Regions from separate parts of the Homo sapiens genome. Here region 1 is linked to region 2. Evidence: fine-mapped expression QTL. A gene starts in region 2. The other region holds a variant in brackets. All regions are shown on one strand. Distances are between the middles of the regions. Region 1 overlaps MASP1 (MBL associated serine protease 1). Region 2 holds the start of MASP1 (MBL associated serine protease 1).

Region 1 (2,500 bases), 30 kb before region 2:
TTCTCTCCTTTGGGAACCCAAGATCAGGTTTCCAGGCTGGGTGGGCATTTCTGCATCTTCATCCATGTGGTGTCTGAGGTGCATCATTGACTTCATTTTTACTTGTTCCTATTGCATATCTGTCTTTCTCTGAGCCTCATCTAATGTTATTGAGGATGTGGCCTATAAGGGCAATGCATACAATCATTGGTAGGCTCTACCTCGGCAGGTCCTGTTGTCTGTGTGGAGGATGTAGCCGAAGCGGCAGGAGCAGTAGTAGCCGCCAATGTAGTTGTGGCAGTAGTGGTCACAGGACAGCTCCTCGTCCTCCCTCTCCTTGCACTCGTCCACATCTGTAGGGCAGGTAAAGCCTCTCCATCAATACATGCATGATGATGAAGACTACAGCCAACATTTATAGAGCACTTGATATGGGCCACTCACTATGTTAGGAGATTCATGCGTTCTCTCATTTAATCCTCTCATACAGCCCAGAGGTAGCCATTATCTTCACTTTACAGACTAGGAAACTGGAACTCAGAGAGGTTAGGCAACTTACCCAAGGTCACAAAAAGCCAAGTTCAAACCCAGGTAACTTGACTTCTGGTGGGACCACTATCCTCTAACAGTTATAATAATAACTGTGTGTGGGACAACAACCTCAGGAAGAATTACACATTTGTTACTATGCATTCTGTTACTAGTCACATTCTATGGAGGATGAAATGGCGACATAGAGGCATTAACAAACTTAGAATCACACAGATAATAAGTGGCAGACCCAGGATTTAAATACAGACAAGCTGGGTACAGAGCTTGTGCTCTTAACTTCTACCTCATGCTACCTCTTTCTTTCTTTCTGCCCCTAATGTGGGTCAAGCCCTGTCCTAGGCATTTGAATGTACATTTCCCCAAAAGGGATAAACCAATGGCCAACAAGCACATGAAAAGATGTTCAACATTGCTAGTCATTAAGGGAATGCAGTTTAAACCACAATGAGGTACCACTACATACTCACCAGAGTGATTAAAATTTTTAAAAATTGACAACATCTAATGTTGGTTTAGATGTGGAGCAGCCAGAACTCTCATACATTGGTGGACAGATAAAAAATGTTACATTTGCTTTGGAAAAGGTCTGGCAATGTCTCATAAAGCTAAACGTATACCTATCCTATGACTCAGCAATTCTTCTCTTACATATTTACTCAATAGAATTGAAAACATATGTTTGCAAGAAGACTTGCACAAGAAGGTTCATAAAAACTTTGTTAG[T/C]GAGAGCTAAAAAATGGGGAGATTCCAAGTAGCCGTCAATAAGAGAATGAGTAAACATACTTTAGTATATTCATACAATGGAAAATTACTCTGCCAGGAAAAGGAGCAAATTACTGATGCATGCGACACATGAATTAACTTCAAAAACATTATGCTGAGTAAAAGAATCCTCACCCCCAAAATGTATTCTGTATGTTTTCATTTAAATGAAGTTTTAGAAGAGGCAAGAACTAATCTACAGCAGAAAAAAAATCAAAACAGTTGTTTCCTCTAAGGGAAGTGGGAGCAGAGATTGACTGGCAGGGACACAAAGGAACCCCCTGGGCTGGTGGTAAAGTTCAGTGTCTTGTTAGAGGTTTGGGTTACACACAAATACAGATTTTTCAAAATTCAACAAATGTATACATGAGATATGTATATTCCATTTTATGTCAATTTTACACAAAAAGAAAAAATGCTGTGAACAAATATGAAACTCTAGCAAAATAATATGCATGCTGAATTATTTAGGAAGAAGTATACTGATGTCTGCAATTTACGTTAAAACACTTTGTAAAAGATGAATTGCTGGATGGATAGAGGGTAGATAGATGGATAGATACGTGATAGAGCAAATGCATTAAGACATTAATGGTAAAATCTATGTGGTGCACACACAGATTTCCATCGTAAAGGAGAGGTCACAAGGCAGTTTTCATCTTCGGAGAGAGAGAGAGAGACCTGAGGATGAGTCACTTCTCCAACTTACCCACAGCCATGTAGTGGGCATCAAAGCCTGTGAAACGCTCCTCATTGGAGAAATCTGACCGGAAAGTGATGGACATGAAGGAGCCAGGGGAGAGGACCACCTCCTGGCCGGGAGTCTGCTCTGTGTCTGTGGTCTCCCTGCCACAGAAGGTTGCCAGCACCTGGTCCTCAGTTTCTACCTTTGAGGTCAAAGAGAAAGGGAACAAGATGAGCAGTTTCCCAGCTAGGCTTCTTTCCTTATCTTTAGAAAGAAAAAGGAAGGGGCCACCCAAGAGTAGGCTAGTCAGCCTGAGAAACCCAAAGAAAGGAGGTTAAGGATTCTTGAGAAAAGACGCATTACAAGTTAATTCAATGTGGACATCTGATCAGTTTCATTCGTCTTATTTAGTTCCATTAGAAGTAGCTTGATATTTGTTGTTGCTGTCAATAACCAAGCAGCTTATTTATTAAAAATAACTCAATATGAAAGTTTTAAAAAGTTAGATAACCTCGCAGACAG
Region 2 (3,007 bases):
GCACTGAATGGTAGGGTGGGATTCAGACCAGATCATTGACAGATAAATGAGATTATCATTCAATGTAGATTGACATAAATCACTTTTTTTTGGAGAAAGAAAAATGATGTTTAATGGCAGGTTTAAAATTACTATGGCTTTAAGAAGAACAGAATTATTGCACTCACTTTTTAAGGACCTGGTTATCTCTCTGAACCACAGGTAATCGGAGTTCAAAGAGTTAACATAGTCTGAAGCCTCTCATTGGTCTCAGGTCCAGAAAAGTTGCTAGGTTACTTTGCAGAAGAGAAACAAATAAAAACACTTTCCCAAGTGAAAAGAAAATTAATAGTAAAAGATGTGTTTAGGGACTTACACATCTGCAGAGCATTGTGTGTGTGTGTGTGTGTGTGTGTGTGTGTAACAGCATTAACACTTAACTAATAAAAATAACTAGGGTGGTTGGGTTTTCAGACTTGCAGGATAGAACTTGTATGAAAGGTCTGGTAAGGAGTGTCAAGTATAATGAGGAATAAGAAAGGTTAAAGAGTTTAAAACCAATTAGAATTTGAAGTTCTTGATTTCAGAACTCTAAAATCCTTTTTTTTTTTTTAAGTATGATATCTCTTTAAGAGCCATTTGGTGTACTTCATAGCCTGATTCATGCCACCAGCTGCCTCTGATTTCAATGAGAAATGCAGAAAATTTATAGGGAACTGTAAAATGGGGACAGATTTTTAGTTTTCTAAATTGAGGTTTAACTGGCAAACTTGTAAAGGTTGAAGAAACCACAGAGCCAAGCTATGGGAAGCTGGTTTCTTTTCTGGTCAGAAGGAATGAACACACAAACACATATCTAACTCACAAAGTGCTGGAAGAGAGAAAGCAATGCTCTTTCCAGAGGAGGAACACGGAAAAATCAGCCTTGTGGGTGAACAGGAGGAGAGTCACATTCGCCAGCAGGCAGCACCCTGTGCAGGCAGTGGGAGAAATCTGAGCTTCAGCAGCGTCCGGAGCAGGATTTGCACGAAGTCTCCCGTTTCAAGTTTTATGTCTCCTGGAGTCCTGGGGAAGGCACCCAGCCCACCCACAGCTCCCTTCTCAGAGCCCTAAGAATTGATGAGAAAGCCCCTCACTACCACATGCAGGACACGCAGGTGAGTCTGTCAGTGACAAGGTCAGACCTTCCCTGCTATTTGACACTGGTCCCCAAAAGGGAACCGTGCCCTCTCCTCCCCTGGCACGTACCTCATTTTCCTGCCTTGGGTGCTCCCGGCTGCCCGGCCTTGGTCCTCCCAGCTTGACTTGCCTGTGAGCTCGTGCCCGGTGTGGTGTCCGTGATGCCTTATCTTTGTTCTGAGGTCCCTGTGTGTCTCTGGAATTGGCTGGCATTCTCCATTCAGGTCACGCCTTCCCCTGCCTGCAACAGATCCCCTCTCCCCCTCTCTCCCTCTGGCTTTTCCTCTCTCCTCTCTCTCTCCTTTGACTTGCTCTTGCACTCCCAGGAACCTGACAACAAAATCTGTCTTCCTACCGAAAAGATCTGCTCCTTCCCTTCCCTCCTTTATCCTGTGTGGCTGACTTCAGCCCTTGAGAGAAAATAACTGAGGGGCTCAAGCAGGTATTTGTATCACTCTGTGTGTGTGTGTGTGTGTGTGTGTGTGTGTGTAGAGAGAGAGAGAGAGAGAGAGTGAAAGGGGACAAAGTCTAATTTCTCTTTAGTCTTTTTTGCCAGATGACTATAATTTTCTGCTTTTCTTCAGGACACCCATGAAAGAAAAGCAATTAAATAGAAACAACCAACTAAGAAGGCAATTCTAGCACCTACACTAGAAGAAAAAAAAAAGGTCTAAATCCCAGAGCGTCTGTCTGCAAATAACTACAGGTTTCCTTGTGAGCAGAGCCCCAAATAACTACAGGTTTTCTCGTGATCAGAGTCACACACAACGACAGGTTTTCCTGTGAACAGAGCCACGGGCCCGGAACTGGGGAAGCACCAAGTCCTGAAGTTGGCTGGTTGTTCCTCCCCATGAGCAATACCTGTGGCACTGTTTACTTGCTCGGAGTGTGTGCGGCTCTACTCCAGCCCAGAAAGGGCCCATCGCAGCAAGAAATCTCACCTCCCCAGGGGTGTAGAAAGACCTGGGCCTGTATATATGTCTATACCCATGGCTTCCGGAGAAATCAACACTAGATCTAAGATGAGCTGAATAATAAGAAAATTACCCCCTCCACAACAACAACAACCAACACTGAATAGGGAGAGGTGTATCTGGGTGTAAAAGTTAAGTTTGACTGTGCACCTTTTCTGTGTTAGACACAGTACTAGTCATTAACATCATCTCAAGTTACTTTTGCAAACTGGTGAAAGTGCTGCTGTTATACTCATTTTACAAGTGAGGACACTAAGGCTCAGAGAGAATATGCCACTTGCCAAGATCATCCAGTTATTTATGACTCCCCACTGCCACTAGCACTAGAAGCTAACAGCTATTGAGTGCTACGTGTCAGGCACTGCTCTAAGCACTTAATATATGAATTCTTTTCAGTCATCTTTATATGTTGTATACATGGCTGGCAATATTCTCATTTTTCAGAGGAAATTGCCCAGAGAGGTTAAGTAACTTTCCCAAGTTCACACAGCTAGAAAGTAATAGAGGCAGAATTTGAAGTGTTAGCCACTGTATTACACTGCTACTCATTAACATTTTATAATGCATATGGAATTTCAAATGCACACACACAGACGGCATTCATAGAGAAACTCAATCTGAGTCATTTTGAAAAGAAGATTAGACTCAGAGTTTAGCTGTAATCTTTCCTTTCTACCCAAGACAGCTGTGTACTTTGGGCACAATACTTAAGGTATCTGATTCTGTGTCTTCATTTGGAAAATGGGAGTTACTATGAGGCTTAAATAAGACTGTGCTTGTAGAAGTGTCCAGGGGAGTACCAGAGAGAGGGCTGCCAGCCACACTCACCAAAGCGGCAGACACATGCACTGTCTACCCTCAGATAACGTTCCTTT

Evidence for each region.
Region 1: its variant is fine-mapped to the expression of MASP1 in fibroblasts (GTEx, PIP 0.92).

Annotation. Positions count from the first base shown.
Region 1 is chr3:187,260,541-187,263,040 of GRCh38, forward strand. MASP1 (MBL associated serine protease 1) reads right to left here. Exons shown (of 11, transcript NM_139125.4): 3 at 2,003-2,180; 4 at 201-332. Among named protein-coding and RNA genes, the nearest start is that of MASP1, 30 kb to the right of the region's middle. The variant T/C (reference allele first, on the strand shown) is at 1,255.
Region 2 is chr3:187,290,401-187,293,407 of GRCh38, forward strand. MASP1 (MBL associated serine protease 1) reads right to left here and starts at 1,337. Exons shown (of 11, transcript NM_139125.4): 1 at 1,228-1,337. The coding sequence starts at 1,232. LOC101929130 (a long non-coding RNA gene) reads left to right here and starts at 872. Exons shown (of 2, transcript NR_135551.1): 1 at 872-1,136.